Regions from separate parts of the Homo sapiens genome. Here region 2 is linked to region 1. A link means that fine-mapping ties the variant in region 1 to the expression of a gene that starts in the linked region. Tissue or cell type: whole blood. Region 1 holds a variant in brackets; the other region holds the start of a gene. All regions are shown on one strand. Distances are between the middles of the regions.

Evidence for each region. PIP is the estimated chance that this variant, and not a neighbour inherited with it, causes the effect.
Region 2: it holds the start of SFXN4, and the variant in region 1 is fine-mapped to the expression of SFXN4 in whole blood (TOPMed, PIP above 0.99).

The regions. Positions count from the first base shown.
Region 1 is chr10:119,200,637-119,212,365 of GRCh38, reverse strand. GRK5 (G protein-coupled receptor kinase 5) reads right to left here and starts at 4,795. Exons shown (of 16, transcript NM_005308.3): 1 at 4,397-4,795. The coding sequence starts at 4,448. It overlaps GRK5-IT1 (GRK5 intronic transcript 1), which reads right to left and starts at 3,945. Exons shown (of 2, transcript NR_186528.1): 1 at 3,716-3,945; 2 at 1-885. RefSeq lists silencers at 4,369-4,418, 4,469-4,538, 4,749-5,578 and enhancers at 5,919-6,028, 6,049-6,098, 6,209-6,288. The variant A/G (reference allele first, on the strand shown) is at 5,238.
Region 2 is chr10:119,161,713-119,172,120 of GRCh38, reverse strand. It overlaps SFXN4 (sideroflexin 4), which reads left to right and starts at 6,407. Exons shown (of 14, transcript NM_213649.2): 1 at 6,407-6,584; 2 at 7,925-7,990; 3 at 9,707-9,781. The coding sequence starts at 6,474. PRDX3 (peroxiredoxin 3) reads left to right here. Exons shown (of 7, transcript NM_006793.5): 6 at 2,779-2,944; 7 at 3,588-4,401. The coding sequence ends at 3,641. RefSeq lists silencers at 6,259-6,728, 6,770-6,956.

The DNA.
Region 1 (11,729 bases):
AGTTTAGAATCTGACAAGCAGCAGCTAAGCTACTGAAAGATGAGAGCCTTGTGGGCATTTATCTGATGGTTTTTCAAACAGGCAGCCAGATTAACTACAATCATCGTTTGAAATCTTTAAGAAAGCAAAAGGCCTTCTGAAAACATTGCTTTTGGTTTCTCTACCTCCAAGTTGTCAGTACTGAAAAGGAAACTTTAAAAAAAAAAAAAGAAAGGCAGTTTGATTTAACGGCATTGTGTTTAACAGGCCAGGCTGCTTTTACACACACCGAGCTGCCTTAACCAGGATGAAAGCTGTCGCTTGGTAAGATTAACATTAAAATTGAAGGAGAAGCTTCAGGGTGGAGTACGTATGCCTCCACGTATGCCTTCACATAGCCATAAGAGGGCTTTGAGCTTCAGAGATGTTCCAACGTTCTAATAACCTAATTCACCATGTTTTGGTTTTATCACCATGAATTAGGGGTGCAAGGGAAAGAGGTCCAGGGCTTTCAGCCGTGCTGTGGAATGTTAAGTCTGTCCACGCCATAGCCTGCCCCACGCAGAGCTGGATGCTGGCTCACTCCTTCTTCCTGCCCTCCCTAACCTCTTCCAGGCCCCGAGGTGCTAATCTTGATGATCAGGAAGATCCAGCCAAGTCACAGAGTTACCTGAAAAAACGGTTCCTGTGTATTCTAATGTTTGGCAATTGTGACAAATGACAAAGTTGTTCCAGTCCTAACTTCTCAATTCCTGTGCTTGCTAGGGCCTCAGGAAAATGTGATCAATATTCCTTCAGGTATCTTTTTTGATCAGATATGGCTACTGCTGGCCTGTGAAGAAAGGAAAAGCGGGGCCTTGCAAAATTTTTTCTCACCACTGTTCACTCAGAAGAAAGGCAACAGATCTAGAAGATGAGAAAAACACAAAAACCTTTACTGCAACAATAAAACCAAAAAGAAACACACAAAAGGCACTCAGCAAACTCTCCTTCTCATTATTATTTCAACATTAGGTCGCCTGCCAATTTTCTGAGATTCTGAAATGTAAATAAATAGATAGAGTTAGTCTGGGCCTCTTTTTCATGAAATGCTTAATCACTTAGCTCATTCCCATAAATTGCCATGAATTCAGTCTCAACTTCTTTCTTTTTTTCCTTAAGCACTTTTTAGGAGAGCAATCTAAAGTTCCTAAGAGTGATCGAGTTGATGTTTTCTCATGAGACCCAGGACAAATAAACAGGCCCCAAAATACATTTCCGTGGTTCAAAATCTTGAACCCATACCTCTACCTTTTCTTATTTTAAAATAATTATCACAAGTGTTCATGAAGCTTGCTTGCTATATTTTCTAATTACTAACAATCCATCATTTTACTCTAATCCACTTACAGGCTTTCTATTTTATTGCTACATTAATGCTTTCCACTTTATATTATGTCTTATTACGGTAAGACTTTGAAGATACAGTGAATTTAGGAGCCATCTGTCTTTAATGCAAAACAAAAAGAAAAGATAGGTCCCAGTGTTACCCACCAACATGGACAACTACAAATTATTTTACAGCATTTTCAAAGTGTGCCTGTCTTTCTTCAAGGTCTGTTTCTCTATTGTTTGGGACAAATGTGACTTTTACTTGAAAGCCAAATTTTAAATTGCTTACGGTGTATTTTGTTAAGTGAACTAAATTAAATTTCACATTTGCCAATTATATTTCTCATCTGTAACCACTGACAAGAATCTTTAAGAAGTGTTTTTAAACCTTTTAAACAACTCAGATTTTTTTAATATACTGTTTTATATTAGATATTTCACTAAACTGACTGAAGATTTCATTTCTGAATATTTAGATAATATGGTTATTTGGAGAACTACTAAGTTTAGTAAAATAAATTCAAATATATGAGAACTGAGAAGAGAAACATAAATTGCTTTAATTTCTAAAAGTGTCCACACTAATTAGGATATATGGGCTCAAGTCTCTAATAAAGGCCCAGCCAAAAGAAACTGGAAGCACTTAAAATCATGGCTTTCCTCTAGGCATAAGAGAGAAAGAAGGGGAGAGATGCAAATTGTAAATGAGGTTTCCATTAAATGATTAATTTTTCTTGTTCACGTGTCAGTCTCTCCCTGCTTCCGCAGGCCCTCTCCATTTCCAAGGCATCATCAAGAGCTATTTTCTCACCATGAGATGACGACCAAACTCTCACAGCAAAATTGAAAAAGCCTTTAAAAGGAAAAAAAAAAGTGAAAGGCACATTCTTGAGCACTTTCAATCACTGTAATTCTGCCCCAATGGGAGTCGGTCACTCCACACAAGCTTCCAGCCTGCAGCTCTCTTCTCCAAGGCTCTGGGAAAAAAACCCAATTTGTTGGCCTAACGAACAACAATATCAGACAGTAAATTCACGTTGGTGAAAAAATACTGGGGAGAACAATTTGGAGGGGGCGGGTGGAATTGATATCACTTTGCCCACTCTAAGCAAAGCATTATAAAAGAAGCAACCAAATGCTCAGGGAAGAAAAAAAGCATCTATCAGGCAAACAAATATCTACAGCAGCAAATGTCGGGGGCAGATTCCCTGGGCAACAGGAGGAACCAGCGAAACTTGCAAGGCTCCAGTACCATCAGACCCAGTGATTTCCCAAGAAATAATTTCAGAATGGAGCGAGAGTGAAAACTTTCCCAGCCCCCGAATCCTGAGATACACAACCGTGTCCCACCACTAGGTGGCCAGCTGCAAAGGCTGAAAGAGGGGCGGGGGAGGTGGAGGGCTGTTTTCTCTGCTTCCTCCCTTTCAGGACCATTCCCCAACCCAGAGGAGAGCCTACCAGCACCCACCTAGATCCTGTCCACTAAAAATGTCAGGTTAGGAAAAAAAAAAAAAAAAAAAAAAAAAAACCACACACACACACACAGCTCAGGCCTTAGAACCTGAAGTCACCAAGTAACAAGCCTCTCCTAAAAATTTATTCCCACCAAAGCTAAGCAATGGGAGGGAGACTAACCTGAATATTTTAAACTCTGCTGGGGTTTTCAAAGCACTGCCTCCCTTCGGGGCTTCTGAAATAAACCTTCTTGCCCACTGGCTGCTTTAGAGTGACAAGTGACGACGAAAGTAAGACACGAATGCCGGGTTGAGTTGCTGAAACGCTGCCCACGGAAGGCTATGCATCACCTACCCCCACAGTGTGTAGGGAGCCACAAGGTGATGGAACGGGCTGAATAAACACGAATCGTTTTATTGCTGGCCAGAAATTCTTCCCTTCATTCATCAAAGTAGGTGAATGAAAATATTAAGCAGGTAAGACATTTTCATGGGCTGCTCACCGAGTATCCTTCTAAACTCAAGCCCTTACTCAGTCTGCCTTCTACCTTGTATCAAATAAAGCGTTCTCCCGTGAAAGGGAAAAACCTCTTCCCCTTTTATGAAAAAGGTCGCACACTAGAGCTCAAATCTTGACCAGAAAAAAAAAAGGAAAATATGCGACATAAATTCCAGGTATTCCTAAATACATATGTTTACATGGACACAACACAATCATTTCAGGAAGCACCCAAGTTTCTGCCTCCCCCCCCTTTTTTCTGTTTTTCATCAAAAGGAAGAGTCAAAATATGCGTTCTTAGGGTTTGACTCAGGATCTTACACACTCCATTTAGACAATATTTCCTGCCAGCTAAATGCAGGAAATCTAATGATTTGCATAGAAAACGTATCTAAAGCACCAGCACACTTACCTTTCTTTTCTTAACTGAGCCAAAATCTAACAATTTCAGTTATCACACTCCCAGAAAAGAAAAACCTGAAATACTGAATTATTTTCTAGGTGGTCTGTACAGCCATCCTTTGATAATTCTATGAAAAGGCTAATTCCTCAACATCTGACTTTGCCTTTAAAAGGCTTCCTTCCACACGACGGGATTTCCCTAAGAAACATCCCAGCGGATGGTTTCCAGCAATAGTCTATATCAACTCAGCCTGCGCAGGCAAAGACTTGGCTTCTGCTCATTCCACCCCCGCCCCTCGAACACACACACCAGTTCACACAGAACCATCCCGGGCCGACTTGAAACGCTATTTTATGTGCATGTTTGCTCGTCGCTCCCCGAATGAATGCTTTTCCAACTGACCTTTCAACAGCTGCCGAGATGGCACGCTCTGCAGGGCGAGCGCTGGAAACTAGGAGATATGTTAGCATCCAAATCCCTGCAACCTTCTCAGCCCAAGTCCAGATTCTCTGAGCCCCAAGGCAGGAACCCTGAAGGGTCTGCAGAGCCGCTCTCCGAAGTGTCCTGCTCGCGACCCACTCGCCGGCAGCGGGCATCCTGCACGGGCGCAGCCCCAGCCCGCACGCCACCCGACACCCGCACCCTGGCCCGCGGCGGACGCGCCGGGCACGTACCGGCCCTGCCTCTTACCTTCCCTGGCTTTCAGCAAGACCGTGTTGGCCACGATGTTTTCCAGCTCCATTGACAGTCGGCGGTCAGCAACGGAGCCGGCCGGCGGGGCTGTCAGCGCCTGGGGTGCTGCCGCTGCTGCTGCCGCTGCTCGGGCTGCCGCCGCTGCTGCCGGAGCCGGGGGAGCCAGCAGCCCGCCTTGCCTACCGCATTATTCCTGCTCTCAGCCCAAGAGTTTCCCCCTCTGCAAAGAGGAGCCGCCGCCGCCGCCGCCGCCGCCGCCGCTTCTTCCTCCCTCTGTGTCCCCCCTCCCCCCTCCCTCAACACGCTCCCCCCCACCCCCCACCCTCCGCGTGTCTCTGTCACTCCATTCTCCTCCCCTCCGGCTCCCTCGGATGCTTTAATGCCTCGGATGCTTCTGCCTCCCCTCAGTCCCTCCCGGGGGTGTGGTACTAGCAGGCTCGGGCGGCCGCACTGCGCAAGCGCCGGCCCAGGCGCGCCTCCTGCCTCGGTGCTCGCGGCGCGGGGCCTGCTGGGAGCTGGAGTCCTCCCGGCCGCGCGGCGCCGGGGCTGAGCTGGGCTGGCGCGCGGCTGTCGGAGCGAGGACCCGCCCCGGGACGGCACCGAAAGCGAAGGCGGGCACCGCCCGGCCGACAGGCGACTCAAAGGCGGCCCAGCCAAGCCGAAGTCCCCAGCACCCCCCCGCAGGCTCCCGCTTGCCCCCTTCCCGCCCCGTCGCCAGCCCGGAAAGCGGAGTGCACGGGCCCCGGTGACGGCGCGTGAAGCGCCGCGGCCCGGCAGGAGCCAGTGCGGGTCCCGAGCCGTGCTCGGAGTGGGAGGGCTGCCAGCTCGGCCGCGCGCC[A/G]CAGCCCGCTTCCTCCGGTCCGCGCCAGGCCCGCGAGGGTCTGAGTCCCGGGTCAGTGACGCGCGCCCAGGGTCCCCGCACGCGGCGGCGGCCGGCCCGGCCTGGCCCCTGCCCAGCGTCTCCCACGCGGCGCCTCGGGCCGCGGACAAAGATGCACTTTGTTTCCTCGGAGGGCGCGAAGGGCTCTGCGGGTCGGCTGCGACCCGGCGCTGGCTGCCCGCGCTGCTCTCGGTGCGACCCGAGCGCCCCCCGCCGGCCGCGGTGCGCGGCGCGGGGTCTACGCGGACGGCGCCTGGGGCTCAGGGTCCAGCGTGGGAAGCTGCTTATTCTGTGAATAAACTGCCTTCCAGCACACCCGGCCAGCAAATCCACGAGCCTCCCTGCAGCCAAACCCAGCCAGATTAAGTAATAAAAACGCAGACGGAGTCGCCGGAGTCTCCGCCGTGGGGAGCGTTAATGAGTAACAGCCAGGCCAGCGCCAAGCCGGCGTGGGATTAACGTTTTTAAATTCCGGTCTTATTTATTTTGGGGCTCTTAGCTCCTTCCAGTGTTATGCTCAGAACATCAGACTCCAGGTCTGTGCTCAGCCCCGTTTCCTTGCTCCCTCCGCTCCGAAGGCCCCACTCCTGGAAATGGGCTGTCTTCGGTCACCCGGGATCTGCCACGAGTGTCCTACAGCTGGGGGCGGGGCAGGCAGGCCCCAAAGAACAATGAGGCCTTTGCCTCCTCTGCATCCTGCGGGCCGGATATCCGTTCAGAAGCCGACTCTGGGCCTTCTCTGTCCAGAAGGAGGAAACCCTCTGTCCCCAGGGCTGCCAGGAAGTCGCAGGGAGGTGCCGAGAGAAACAGAGAACAGTTATTATGCATTGGAGAATATAAAGAAATCAATAAACCTTCCAGGCCTTGGAAACTGGTCTGGTCACTGATTGTAACAACCCAAGATTACCTGCTTTCCTGGGGGAGTATACCCACCACCACCACTTCCTGGTGTCTAGACTTGGGTCAGTGAGTCTCCCAGGGCCTCATTTATCTTGTCTGCAAAATGGGGGCAACAACAGTTTACCTGTCAGAAGGCGGAGGGCTCAGCGGGTAACTTTTCAGGCACTTACCACTCCAGGAATTACTGTTCTAAGCAATCCAGGCTTGGTCTTTGCTACATATTCACGTGCCTAGAGCCCTAACCTTTAATGAAAGGATCTCTCTCAGACAGCGAGACCCCTAAAGCTGGCAGCTCCTAGAGCCCTCCACCAACCACGCTGGTCACTTGCTGGCAGCATAGGGCCTGATGAAGCCCGAAGTTTGTTTATTCGGCTAACATAAAAAAAAAAAGAAAGAAAATTTTTGAATGCCTTTAGATGGCTTATGCACCTTAACAATTTTCTTGGGCCGGGCGCGGTGGCTTACGCCTGTAATCCCAGCACTTTGGGAGGCCGAGGCGGGAGGATCACGAGGTCAGGAGATCGAGACCATCCTGGCTAACAGTGAAACCCTGTCTCTACTAAAAATACAAAAAAAAAATAGCCGGGCGTGGTGTTGGGCTCCTGTAGTCCCAGCTATTCAGGAGGCTGAGGCAGGAGAATGGCGTGAACCCGGGAGACGGAGGTTGCAATGAGCCGAGATCGCGCCACTGCACTCCAGCCTGGGCGACAGAGCGAGACTCCGAACCAAAAAAAAAAAAAAAAAAAAAAAACAATTTTCTCAAAGGTTGTTTTTGTTTGTTTTTTTGTTTTGTTTTGTTTTGAGACAGTTACTCTGTCACCCAGGCTGGAGTGCAGTGGCCCAATCTCGGCTCACTGCAACCTCGGCCTCCCAGGTTCAAATGATTCTTGTACTTCAGCCTCCCAAGTAGCTGGGATTACAGGTGTGTGCCACCATGACTGGCTAATTTTTGTATTTTGAGTAGAGACGGGGTTTCGCCATAATGGCCAGGCTGGTCTTGAACTCCTGGACTCAAGTGATCCAACCCGCCTCTGCCTCCCAAAGTGCTGGAATTACAGGCATAAGCCACCATGCCTGGCTCAAAGTTTCATGAGCATACAAATCACGGGGGATCTTGTTAAAATGCAGATTGCATTTGGATAGATCTGGGGTGGTTTCTGAGATGTTGCTCTTTCTAACAAACTCCAGGGCTCTGTCGATCCTCGTGGTCAGTAGACCACACTCAGAGTTGAAAAGCTTTCTAGTTTACCGTAACTCCCTATTGTCTTATACCCAGCCCAAGTCACTAGTGATTTTATTTATCTGGCCTGTATAGACATTTAAGTTTTCCATCCTGGGAACCCCTGCCTCTCCCTCTCATTTTACAGATGTGAAACAGACCCAAAGTAAGTGAGTTGGCATGGTCACTCAGCAAGTTAGTGTTAGACTATTTTTTTGTCCACTACAAGCTGTTGCATCCTGCCTACACAAATACATGGTTGTACATCAGGTTTTTGTGCCTCTATGAGGAAATTCAGACACTCCAATGCAAGAATGGAACAATAATGGCTAGCATTTACTCAACACCAACTGTGGGCCAGGCTCTTGTGGTCTTTTAAATGGATTATCTCCTTGAACACAATATCCAGATGAGGTAGGGAACACAGGCCTATTTTATAGATAAAGCACCAGGTTAAGAAAGGTTTTATAGGCCGGGCACGGTGGCTCACGCCTGTAATCCCAACACTTTGGGAGGCCAAGGCAGGCAGATCACCTGAGGTCAGGAGTTCGAGACCAGCCTAACATGGTAAAACCCCGTCTCTACTAAAAATACAAAAATTAGCTGGGTGTAGTGGCAGGTGCCTTGTAATCCCAGCTACTCGGGAGGCTGAGGTAGGAGAATGACTTGAACCCGGGAGCCAGAGGTTGCAGTGAGCCAAGATCATGCCATTGCACTCCAGCCTGGGCAACAGAGTGAGACTTTTTTTTTTTCCTCAAAAAAAAAGAAAGGTTTTATAATTTGTCCAGGGTCACATAAGTAATAAGTAGAAGACCCGGGATTTGAACCTGTCAGCCTGACTCAGAGTTGGTGCACTTAATTTCTGGCTTGCGCAAGCTAGCCAGCACAGCTTGGTAGTAACTGTTCTGTGTGGCTGCCGGGATGAACTTGTATTATAAGAAGGCAAAGCACCCAGTTGACTAAATCATTAAGATTTCAAGGGGTTTTCCATTTTCATCTATAATTCCACCATTATGGCTTTATTCCTTTCAATTAACTGCACTAACAACTCGTGGTCTTCTTGAAAAATGGGTTTGATTCAAGGAAGAGTAGGCTATTAAATATAAATAGCTAAGTAGGGAATCATTGACAGCCAGCTGAGAGCAAGAAGGGAAATCCAAATGGAGGAGTGGGGGTGAGGATGGAGGGATGGGAATATGTCAAAGACAGCCAGCTTCAGACTCCACTCAGGAGCAGCTGAGCCAAAAATGCAAAAGAAGTCAGATGCAGTGGCTCATGCCTACAATCCCAGCACTTTTAGAGGCTAAAGCAAGGGTGCAGGGGATGGGGGGGTGGAGATCGCTTGAGCCCAGGAGTTCGAGACCAACCTAGGCAACATAGCGAGACCCTGTCTCTACGAAATAAACCTAAAAATTAGCCAGGTATGGTGGCACTGAGCTATGATCGCCCCACTGCACTCCAGCTTGGGTAACAGAGTAAGACTGTCTCTAAAAAATAAAAAAGCAAAAGAAACAGGGAACCTTCAAATTCTTCTCTCAGCACCTGTATCTGCCATGAATAAAGCTGCTGGGTCAGAGTTCTTGTAAATAGAAGTCTACTATGCTGGAAAGCCACAAACCTATCGGCCTTCTAAAATATAGATTCCTTTTGCCTGAATAATCAAATTGGCTTTCTGAATAGTCCAGGAACTGGAGTTTCCATTCCTTTCCTTGACTCAAAGCTTTTTAATCCTCAGGAAGCAGCTGCAGATAGAGCTTCCATTCTCTCATTTATCCTCTTCTCCTTCAGAGTTTACCTTTCTGTGTCCAGCCCTGCAGGGAGTTCAAGGCAATTTCCCAGGGAGCTCGCCACTGGGAAGGAAAACACACCGGATGCAAACAACCTCCATACAATGGAATAAGGGCCATTGTGGAGACACACACAAAGGACTTTGCAAACGGGAAGAAGTGATTTCAGGCACCAAAAGAGGAGAAATGTGAGCTGAAAGCAAATCTGGAGGCTTGAGGTTTCCAGTTAACATTTCCTCCCCTCTGAATTCCCTTCATCAATGGACCTCAGTGGTTATCAATTGGACATTAAAAGTTTTACTATGGGCAGGGCACAGTGGTTCACGTCTGTAATCCCAGCACTTTGGGAGGCCAAGGTGGGCAGATTACCTGAGGTCAGGAGGTCGAGAACAGCCTGGCCAACATGGTGAGACCCGTCTCTTCTAAAAATACAAAAACTAACCAGGTATGGCAGCGTGCGCCTGTAGTCCCAGCTACTCAGAAGGCTGAGGCACGAGAATCACTTGAACCCGTGAGGCAGAAGTTGCAGTGAGCCGAGATGGTGCCGCTGTGCTCCAGCCTGGGCGACAGAGCGAGACTCTGTTTCAAAAAAAAAAAGAAAAAGTTTTAACATGTTGTAAACTGCCTATTGCTCTTCTAGTGACTTCATATTTTTCTTTTTTTTTTTTTTTTTTGAGATGGAGTCTCGCTCCGTTGCCCAGGCTACAGTGCAGTGGCATGATCTCGGCTCACTGCAAACTTTGCCTCCTGGGTTCAAGCGATTCTCCTGCCTCAGCCTCCCGAGTAGCTGGGATTACAGGTGCGCACCACCACACCTGGCTAATTTTTGTATTTTTAGTAGAGGTGGGGTTTCACTATGTTGACCAGGCTGGTCTTGAACTCCTGACCTCAAGTGATCCACCCACCTCGGCCTCCCAAAATGCTGGGATTACAGGTGTGAGCCACCATGCCCGGCCAATATTTTTCTTTAAAGTCAGCTCACTTTGAAAACTTTAATTCATCCTAACCAATAATATTTGTGAAATGTGAGGAGTAGTAGAAGTGTCATGCTTGAGAAAACCAATCTCCAAGCAACACGTGGTGTCTTTGCAGCCTTTGGTTTCCAGATGAACTGGCCAATCTTAATGAATCGATTGGTTTTGCCAGGTGATTATTACCTATACACATCTAACCACCTAGCTTGGTCACAAGATTTTGTGGGATCATTTGTCTTGCATCAATTCTCAACTGCAAGTTCAGAAAAGAAGATTCTTGCTGAAATGCACACACCTGCTGATTGTCTCAGCCACATGTGGTTGCCAAACTCCCATCACTACAGCAATTTAACACAGTCTTCTTTAATGAAAAGGAAAGTCCTCCTTCCCTGGTGCCATGTTCAGTCAGGAGGGTTCCCACAGTAGATGTGTTACAAAGTTTAATGAGACAGCTTTTCAGTCCGTGCACCTTTCTCCAGTACCCATCCCATTACTATACCCAGAACCTCATCCAATCCTCCAAGGCAGGTACTTTCGAAAGACATTGTTGCCTCCATTGTATACAGAGGCAACTGAGCCTCAGAGAATTAGGAGGTCTGCTGCCCAAGGCCAACTGATTAAGTGGATGGTGAGGCTATTTAGGTGTCTGCTTTCCCTACTCAAAGGCCTAAAATGTGTCTTTTTTCATCTTTTGATTCTCTTCTCTATTGAACCTAGTACATGCCTGACACAGGGAGCATTTGGCCATATTTATTGACTTATACCCCATATGGCATGACTCAGCCCCACCTGGGCCTCCTGGCTGCTAAGTTTTGCTATATTAGGTAACTATCAAAATTCCCACATCTCTGCCAGGTCAGATTTTAAAAGGGAAAAAATTAGGGGAGATTGGTCTCCTGTCAGAGGTCAACGTGTTACAGAAAGTCAAGGGCAGACTGTCAGTCCCTGGAACTTCCAGCTCTCTGATGGTACCTCTGACCTCGAACCTGGCATCTCCTATAATCAACCCAGTAGTTAAATTGGTCCCAGAATTTTAAAGGAAACTAGGCAAACCAACTTCGATTCCATTTTCAGACTGAGTAAAACATGAGATGTTTAACCCAAAAATGGCACACAGAAAGTTGGGCACTTTTTTGTTTGGTTCAGTGATGAAACAATCAATAGATTTAGATGGAGGAAAAATGTTCAAATAGGCAAGGAAATTACACAGTAAAAATATAAAAATTAATTCTGTACTTTCAGAGTAGGTGAAGGAAAAATAACCTCTTCTCCAGTAATTTTTACTTATTTTTATATATATTTTTTGAGATGGAGTTTTGCTCTTGTTGCCCAGACTAAAGTGCAATGGCGCCATCTTGGTTCACTGTCTCCCAGGTTCAAGTGATTCTCCTGCCTCAGCCTCCTGAGTAGCTGGGATTACAGGCGCCTGCCACCACGCCCAGCTAATTTTTTGTATTTTTAGTAGAGATGGGATTTCACCATGTTGGACAGGCTAGTATTGAACTCCCGACCTCAGGTGATCCGCACACCTCGGCCTCCCAAAGTGCTGGGATTACAGGCATGAGCCACTGTG
Region 2 (10,408 bases), 40 kb after region 1:
TCAATCCTTAATTTTAGTCTTTAATAAACACTGATGAAATGCCTCCTGCAAGGGTTGGCGGTCTCTCAGAAATGCTGAGACATGCATGTCCCCTCCACCACCTTGGGTCTCTTTCTGAAGAAGGCTGGCTGCGTCTTGAGGCCACACTGCTCCATACTCCCTAACTATGTGGGAGCCACTTCCATGGGGACACACACCTGACATTGAAGCCATCAGACTCTGCAGAAGGGGGGACTAGCAGGGTAAGAGGTAGTCTCTTGGAATGGTGACCATCTTCAGCCCTGGAACCAAACAATCCTTGGTTTGAGTTTTTCTTTTTTTTAACTCAGCTACTTAATAGCTGTGTGACTTTGGGCAACTGATTTGATTTAACCTTGTTGAGCCCCAGTTTTCCCATAACTAAAATGAGGTGGTACGTCACAGGTGGGTGTGAGGATTAAATAGTGACACAGCTAGAGTTTTTAGCATAGTTACTGGCAGCAGTTGTTAGGATTTCTGCCCCAGAACATCATTTCTATCTGTATTCAGTCCCTTATTAAACCTTTATTCCTTTGAGTGTGAAAAGCTTTCAGTCCTCAGCAGCCCCACATTCAAACATAACCTTCCTGGGAGGGATGAGAACTTGGGTCTTAGAATTGGCATCTTGAAGTCTGCTGAGAATAGGAGTGAAGGAGGGATAGGGCAGAACTTGACCTCCAGGAAGGAAGAGAGGGGATCCCCCTTTGATGTGCTGTGCCTCACAGTTTTGCTGGGGGCTGGTCAGCTTAAAGCCAGCTCACCTGGCCGGGCGCGGTGGCTCAGGCCTGTAATGCCAGCACTTTGGGAGGCCGAGGCAGGTGGATCACGAGGTCAAGAGATCGAGACCATCCTGGTCAACATGGTGAAACCCCGTCTCTACTAAAAATACAAAAAATTAGCTGGGCGTGGTGGTGGGCGCCTGTAGTCCCAGCTACTCGGGAGGCTGAGGCAGGAGAATGGCGTGAACCTGGGAGGTGGAGCTTGCAGTGAGCTGAGATCGCACCACTGCACTCCAGCCTGGGCGACAGAGCAAGACTCTGTCTCAAAAGCAAACAAACAAACAAACAAACAAAGCCAGCTCACCTGCCTGTCTTGTAGGTGACCTCTGGCCTGCTCTTTCTTGGGTTACACCTTGGGTTTTAGCGCTGAGTGGCATCTTAGAGTTTGGGCCTTTTTTTCCTCTCTTTTTTTTTTTTTCTTTTCTTTTCGAGACGGTGTCTTGCTTTATCGCCCAGGCTGGAGTGCAGTGGCGTGATCTCGGCTCACTGCAACCTCCACCTCCCGGGTTCAAGCAGTTCTCCTGCCTCAGCCTCCCGAGTAGCTGGGATTACAGGCACACGCCACCACGCCCGGCCAATTTTTGTATTCTTAGTAGAGATGGGGTTTCATCGTGTTGGCCAGGCTGGTCTCAAAACTCTTGACTTCGTGATCTGCCTGCCTCGGCCTCTCAAAAGTGCTGGGATTACAGGCATGAGCCACCGCACCTGGCAGACCATTTTTTTTTTTTTAAACTTTAAAGAGATTATCAAACGAATGCCTAGGTCTTTCAGAATTGTCAATGGCCAGAGAAAGGGTACTGGCTATTTTTCTCCTACGGTCCCTTTCCCTATGAGAACTCACTAATTTTGCAGTTACCTCTGTACCCGTTTTAATATTGAGATTAACAAGAGAGAGAAGCTGAGTCTGGCTTATAAGATAAAGACTTTTGGGAGTCTATGGGCCCTGCTCTGTCCCAGCTCTGCCTCACCTTCTATTGGTGGACTTCAGCTGGCTGCACCCTCTGGGAACAGTTTCACCTCAAACCCCAGGCTCCCAGTGCCTGACCCAGGGAGGGAGAAGCATCTTTTATCCTGAGTTTTCTCTAACCTGCCTTTTCCATGAGTGATTGATACCTGAAATTTCCACATCCTTTTAAGACAGACTGTTAAAACCTGTAGGTTAAATAACCGGACACAGTGACACACACCTATAGTCACGCTACTTGGGAGTCTGAGGTGGGAGGATCAGTTGAGCCAGAAGTTCGAGGCTGCAGCCTGCTGTGATCACACCTGAGAAGAGCACTGCACTCCAGCGTGGGCAATACAGTGAGACCCTATATTTAAACCAAACAACCAAAAAAACTTCTAGGCTAAACATATCTGCATCTGTCACAGTAACACCAACACAGAAGATAAACACAGACCACTGTGGTAGCGTGGTTCATCTCATTACATGCTGCTACATGATTAAAAGTGATGGGCATGGTTTTCTGTTTTGCATAGACTTAGAGCCTGTACATTCTTTCTATGAAGATTTTTCCCGTGGGATTTCCCCCCATTTACCCAATAATTCATTCATAATAAACAGTTGTTGAACCTAGATAAAATACACCTCTGTCTCTTCCCATTTGCCTATAAGTTTCTTGCCAAGATGTGATACAGCAGCTCAAAGAATGCTTGCCAAGTCACTAATAGTCTTTGCTCTCTCTAGTTCAGTGACTTTCCGATACTGTGTAACATTCAGGGCACTATGTGAACTTGTAAGTGTGACCATACTGCATGTTTTATGGTGACCTGGTCCAGTACTGCCTTTGTTAAAGCATCTGTCATCAGTAAGAGATGATAAGTTTTTTGCACAACAGTGAAAACCCCACCTTTAAGCATATGATTACGCTTAATAAATATTTTATTAAAAGGAGAATTAAAGACCTAAAAGGGAAGAAGTTAGACTGTTCTAGTTCTGGTACTGTTGAGGCACTGATGAGGATAAATGATCATGCAGAGGTCTCTTCATAATTGACCCCAATGGAGTCATCAAGCATTTGAGCGTCAACGATCTCCCAGTGGGCCGAAGCGTGGAAGAAACCCTCCGCTTGGTGAAGGCGTTCCAGTATGTAGAAACACATGGAGAAGTCTGCCCAGCGAACTGGACACCGGATTCTCCTACGGTAGGTTTTTTTCCCCAAAAGCAGTGAGGTCCATGTTCTCTCAGCCTCGAGAGCTATTGACCTGAAATATCCACAAAAGGGAGCCCACTCTTGAAGCAAGCGTGCAGATGATATGCAAATGGGTGAAGCTGCTGTGGGGTAGAGGGGGTGGGGTGGGGAGCCAGGAACCAATTATCAGAGACAGGCAGGCCTTTTTTTTTTTTTTTGAGACGGAGTCTTGCTCTCGCCCAGGCTGGAGTGCAGTGGCGCTCTCTCAGCTCACTGCAAGCTCCGCCTCCTGGGTTCACGCCATTGTCCTGCCTCAGCCTCCTGAGTAGCTGGGACTACAGGGCGCCCACCACCACGGCTAATTTTTTGAATTTTAGTAGAGACGGGGTTTCACCGTGTTAGCCAGGATGGTCTGGATCTCCTGACCTCGTGATCCACCCGCCTTGGCCTCCCAAAGTGCTGGGATTACCGGCGTGAGCCACCGTGCCCGGCCTAGAGACAGGCAGGCCTTAATGAAACTTTCATCTTTATGTTTTAAAGGAAATCTTTAAAAGTTTAAAGAACTTTAGGTTAAAAATTGGGAGATTGCCACTCACTTTTGGGACTATTATTATGGTAAAGTCACAGTTACCTAATTAAGCTTTTGTATTTTCAGATCAAGCCAAGTCCAGCTGCTTCCAAAGAGTACTTTCAGAAGGTAAATCAGTAGATCACCCATGTGTATCTGCACCTTCTCAACTGAGAGAAGAACCACAGTTGAAACCTGCTTTTATCATTTTCAAGATGGTTATTTGTAGAAGGCAAGGAACCAATTATGCTTGTATTCATAAGTATTACTCTAAATGTTTTGTTTTTGTAATTCTGGCTAAGACCTTTTAAACATGGTTAGTTGCTAGTACAAGGAATCCTTTATTGGTAACATCTTGGTGGCTGGCTAGCTAGTTTCTACAGAACATAATTTGCCTCTATAGAAGGCTATTCTTAGATCATGTCTCAATGGAAACACTCTTCTTTCTTAGCCTTACTTGAATCTTGCCTATAATAAAGTAGAGCAACACACATTGAAAGCTTCTGATCAACGGTCCTGAAATTTTCATCTTGAATGTCTTTGTATTAAACTGAATTTTCTTTTAAGCTAACAAAGATCATAATTTTCAATGATTAGCCGTGTAACTCCTGCAATGAATGTTTATGTGATTGAAGCAAATGTGAATCGTATTATTTTAAAAAGTGGCAGAGTGACTTAACTGATCATGCATGATCCCTCATCCCTGAAATTGAGTTTATGTAGTCATTTTACTTATTTTATTCATTAGCTAACTTTGTCTATGTATATTTCTAGATATTGATTAGTGTAATCGATTATAAAGGATATTTATCAAATCCAGGGATTGCATTTTGAAATTATAATTATTTTCTTTGCTGAAGTATTCATTGTAAAACATACAAAATAAACATATTTTAAAACATTTGCATTTTACCACCAGTAACTGTTGGATCAGCTTATTTTGGGCTCTCCTTTCCTTCTCAGATTATCAACAAACATTTATTGAGCATTTACCTCAGGGGCCACAAAGAGAATAAGATGCTGGTTCCGCACTCAAGGAACTCGGTTTAGGGGCAAGACAGATAGGGAAACATTTTCTCGTTGTTTCAGTAAATCCTTGAGTGCCTACCCCGCACCAGGTGCTGTTTTCCAGGCACAAGAGCGAACAACGGACAAACCCCTGCTTTTAAGCTCTTACATTCTAGAGGGGAAACACCTCATACATGTAGTAAAAGTAGAGTGTTTGGAAGGAAAATAATGTGGAGTGAAACTGCTGAAGCGGAGTTGTAGGTGTTCTAGATGGGGTTGTCAAGGAAGGCCTTAAGGGAGAGCCTCTCTGGATCAATTTTCTCATTGTAAAATGAGGACAATAATTGTACTTATCTCAGGGTTTTGATGAGCATCGAGGGAGAGAAAACGCGTAGAAAGTGAGAGTATTACGGGGATAAGAGACTTCTAGGCAGAGGGCAGGGAAAACACAAAGGCCGTGAGGCAAGAGTGGGCTCAGAGCGGATGCAGATTTACTAGGAGGCCGGTGACTATGGCTGTGGTGGGGGTCCCAGAGTGCCTTTTGGCCAGGCCAAGGACTTTAGGTTCTGTTCTGGGGTGGGGAATGTCAGGAAGGATTTGAAAAGAAGAGTGACATCAACTTGTTCTAAGAGAATCACTCTGGCTCCTTTGTTAAGACGACATAGCAGTCCAAAGTGGGGAAGCAGGCCAGCGGGCTGGCTTTGTGACATCCTGGAGGGTAGAGACAACAGAATAGAACAGCACGCTACATACTGCACTGGTGCTTAGATGGATTTCTGCGGCATAAGGGTAGAAGTGGAGGGGGCACCTTACTCAACTCGGAGGGTCAGGGAAGGCTTCCTGGAAGAGGAGATAAACCCCTGGAGGTTAAGAAAAGTGAGCTAGGCAAACTGAGCAAATACAGAAGCAGAGTCATACAGGCCTGAAGGACGCCATGAGCCAATTTCCTGTTCCTGGAGGCGCAGGGCAAGGGAAGGAATTGGCCCGCTGGAGGTTAATGGCCAATACTGAGCACTTCTGAGGGCTCAGTGCTGTGTTAGGGATGTTTTATCTCCTTTGATCAGAAACAAAACCCTGAGATAGGTACAATTGTTATCCTCATTTTGCGGATGGGAAAATAGACTTCGAGATACTGACTTGGCGAGGGTCACACAACTAGATGATGTGCTGGGTCCCCCAGTCCTGGACTCCGGAGGCCCCCTGAACGACCTAGGCACACTTGTGGCTTCCGTGAATTTAAGTGCACACAGCCCCCGCCTGGCCCTGTGCTGGGGAAGGGCAGGTGGGAGGAGGAAGGGAAGGCAGGTTTTTCTTTACAAATGGTACCTATTTGGTAGTCAACAAAAGGAACTGGATTTGCCCCAACACTGGAAGAAAAAAAAAAACAACCTGTTGGGCTGAGGGATAGTGCACTGTGCCCAGGGCCCTATACTTGGTTTGATGCTCTGGTGTTACTCTCTTGAAATTCTCAGTAACATGAATAAGGGGCACCGCATTTGACATTTTCCCTGGGCTGAGACCATGATGCAGCCGGCCTGACTGCGCAACACCATGCACACTGGAATTCGTGGGCCATCGGAGGGATTTTCGAGGGTAATGACCAGGGGTAGGGCGCGGCAGAAGCGCAGGGTGAGGTTGCGGACGGCCTCACTCACAACCTTTCCGGGTCTTCGCATTAGGTACTGTGATGACGGGTTCCGATAGTGACCCCTTGGGGCCTGGAGACGGCCCGGCTCCCCAAAGGTGCGGAGCAGGGCAAGCAGGGTTGGGAGGACGTGGCCCGTGGGAGAGCTGCGCTCGCCGGAACAGTGGGCGCGCAAGGGCCCCGAGGCGCTGTGACACGGGACGTCGGGCGCGCGGGCCTGGGGCGGGAACTGCGGGTGCGCGCGGCCCGGGGCGGGGCTCGCCGCCCGGCTCCTCCTCCACGCGCGGCCTGGCGGCGGCGGCCACTCTAACCAGCGCAAAATGTCCCTGGAACAGGAGGAGGAAACGCAACCTGGGCGGCTCCTAGGACGCAGAGACGCCGTCCCCGCCTTCATTGAGCCCAACGTGCGCTTCTGGATCACCGAGCGCCAAGTACGGCCCGGGCCCGGCGCGACTAGGGGCAGGGAGGGGGCGGGCCGGGCCGCGTGGAGTCGGGCTGACCCGGGTGACCTTGGCCAGGCCACGTGGGCGCCCCCTGTCTCCGTTTCCTCCTCTCGGAGTTGTGCCGGGAACGCGCACCACCGGCCTTCACCCCTTAGGGCGCGGCAGGGGACGCAGGGGAAATCGAAGCTGCCAGATGCCCACGACCACAACGTCACCCTCCAGATTGCCCTCTCGGAGGGGCCCAGTCCGCGCAGGTGGCTGCTCCCTACTGCCTGAGCTGTGGCTGAGCAGCAGATTGGGGAGAAACAGGCTCTCGCACCTTGGTAAGCTCAGCCACTTTCGGTGAGACCCCCGAGGCTTTGGGAAGCCACCCTTGGGCAGGACATAAGCAGGACTTATCTCCCTGCAGCGTCTAGGGCAGCACCGTCCAATAGAAATATGATGTGAGCCTTACAGGTAATTAAACATTTTCTAGTAGCCACATTAAACAAGATAAAAACAGCTGAAATTTTTAACAATACAGTACATTTAGCCTAGCAGGTGCAAAATATTAACATTTCAACATGTAATCAGTAAAAAACATTGCTGAGATATTTTACTCGCTTTTTTGGTACAGAGTGTTCCAAATCCGGCGTCTGTTACCTTCACAGCACATCTGGGTTCAGCCGCATGTGGCGAATTGGAGAGCAGGGCTTTAGGGGGTTCTCTTTGAGGCCTCTCCTAAAGTGGGGTCCAGCCCTGTTTTTTTTTTAGGTGGGGAAATTGAGAAGGGGCGGTGAGCTCAGGTTGCTCCAGCAGAGCCAAGGCTTAAAGCCAGAACCACTACAAAGTTTAGAGTTTGCTGGAGCAAACCTCTTTTTCCCCAGTGTGACCCCAGCTGCACCATTGAGCCCTTAATGGGGCGTCCATCCTTTGTCACTGGAGTGAAGCCTTATAGCAAGCAGAGAGTGAGGCCACAGACTCTTGAGATATTCTAGGCCATTGCTTCGAGGTCGTATGTGAGATATGAACGTAAGACCATTTGAACCCCCAAAGTCTGGGATTTTAACCCTCAAGGGCAATTTGATACTGAGAGGTTAAGGGCACAGACTTCTGAATCATTTCCTGGCTGTGTTGCCTTGAGTACATTCAGGAGTCCCTCTAAGCCTCAGCTTCCTCACCTGGAGAACCTGGAGAGGTTGGGAGGATCCCAGGAGATGATGCCAGTAAAAGGCAGATCACAGACCCTGGCAGGTTCTCAGAAAAAAAAAAAAAAAGCCAACTGTTAGTATTTATATCTTTATTTTTCTGCTGCCATTAACCTCTCTGTTGCTTTTCTCCCTCCTAAGTCCTTTATTCGACGATTTCTTCAATGGACAGAATTATTAGATCCTACAAATGTGTTCATTTCAGTTGTAAGTATTGTTTTCAGAGCTAATGAATTTCACATTTTATTTTGAAACTTGAAGTCTGTGTGTCCCTTTTTTTTTTTTTTTTTTTTTTTTGAGACGGAGTTTCGTTCTTCTTGCCCAGGATGGAGTGCAGTGGCACCATCTCGGCTCACAAGAACCTCTACCTCCCAGGTTCAAGCGATTCTCCTGCCTCAGCCTTCCGAGTAGCTGGGATTGCAGGCATGCGCCACCATGCCCGGCTAATTTTGTATTTTTAGTAGAGACGGGGGTTTCTCCATGTTGGTCAGGCTGGTCTTGAACTCCCGACCTCAGGCCCTGCCCACGTGTCCCTTTTAAAAGCAGTTGAAATAACAGAATCTACATATATTATTGTGTTTATTCCTTCTAAATGAGCTTGTCAGATTGGAAGGGGTAAGGAAAAGCGTACATCTGACCGTGTGCCGTGGCTCATGCCTTTAATCCCAGCACTTTGGGAGGCCGAGGTGGGTGGATCACCTGAGGTCAGGAATTCGAGACCAGCCTGACCAACATGGTGAAACCGACGTCTCTACTAAAAATACAAACATTAGCTGGGTGTGGTGGCAGACACCTGTAATCCCAGCTATTCGGAAGGCTTGAGGTGGGCGAATCACTTTCTGAACCCAGGAGGTGGAGGTTGCAGTGAGCCGAGATCTTGCCACTGCACTCCAGCCTGCGTGACGAGCGAAACTCCATCCCCTTCCCCCAGCAAAAAAAGAAAAGAAAAGCGTACATCTGTTTAACAGGTAATATCAGGCCCAGGCCAGGTGCTGGGGATTCAGAGAGAATCAAACAAATCTTCCACGTGATGGAGGACAGACTGGCTAAACTGGTCACATCCTGGGTGACAAGAGTGAAACTCCATCTTTAAAAAAAAAAAAAGAAGAAAGAAAATGTAATAAAATTAGAAGCAAATATAACCAGATGTTTACAGTTGTTAATTCTGGGTGAGGGGATTATAGTGTGTAGCCATTCTTTGTAATTTTTGTATTTATTTTTTCTCAAATTAAGAAATGGAGGCTGGCTGTGGTGGCTCATGTCTATAATCCCAGCACTTTGAGAATCTGAGATGGGAGGATCTCTCGAGAATAAGAATTTGAGACCAGCCTGGGCAATGTAGCGAGACCCTATCTGTACAAATAAAAATAGAAAGTTAGCCAGGTGTAGTGGGTTGTGCCTGTAGTCGCAACTATTTGGGAGGCTGAGGCAAGAGGATCACTTAAGCCCAGAAGTTTAAGGCTGCAGTGAGCTATGATCACACCACTGCACTCCAGCCTGGGCAACAGAGTGAGACCCTGTCTCTTAAAAAACAATAAGAAAAGAAAGAAAGAAAAAGAGAGGAAATAAGACTGAACTGATAAGACATGGAAGTGGGTGAGGGAGAAGGACTTCTAGGTTTCTGACATGTATAGCCAGGGGATGGTGGTAACCATTCAGTGCGACAGTTGACATCAGAGAGTGGGGGAGGTGACAGCACCATTGGGGGCAGCTGCTGGAGCATCTAGGAAGAGGAAGGCATAAATCTGAATGGCACTCAGGGCTATCCTAATGGATAGAGAGCCTAGGGCACCATGTGGCTTGAAATCAGGCATGCAGTCGAAGTCCAGTGCATGCTGGTGAGTGAGCTGGTGATTCCTACCTCTGGGGATAAACCTGAACAATGTTGAGATCATTACTTGATTACTTGATATCTGATTTTAGGAAAGTATAGAAAACTCGAGGCAACTATTGTGCACAAATGAAGATGTTTCCAGCCCTGCCTCGGCGGACCAAAGGGTATGTTTCACGTGCTCAGGTCTGGCTGGTTGCCCTCAGATGGTTCTGCCTGCATGGTCTGAAGTCAGGTGGAATTTGGCCATTAATCTCTGTCTCCGTCTCTTTTCTTTCTTTTTTCCTTCCCTTGGGAGCCACTGTTCTATTGGCTATTAATGCTGTCATTGTTATATACTGCCCAGAGGACCAGCTTTGCAAAACTGGGTTAGTTTTTTAAATGTAGTTAGAATTCTGTCCCATAAACCAGACAGCAAGTTTCCTCCTACACAGTGGATATTTGTGGGGATTCCCTGCAGCTGATTCCTGGAGCCCAGTGGCAAACCCCAGAATTCAGACAGGGCTCTGACGTCAGAATTCATTCTCCACTGCAGGCAGCGTTCCTGCCGATAGGCTCAAACGGACTGTTCCTTATCTACCTTGCAGTATGTGGGGCTTTCTGGAGCTCACAAACACCAGCTCCTCAAGACAGCCTATGGAGAGCTCACATATTTAACTTTTTCTAAGAATGTGCTGGGGACCCTGGGCTGACAGCTTGGCTCTGTTGCAAGTAACTTGACTGATGGCATGGTGTGTCATCAGCACACAGCCTGCTCTGCTCTGAGCCAGAGGCAAGCCGGATTCGGGGACTCA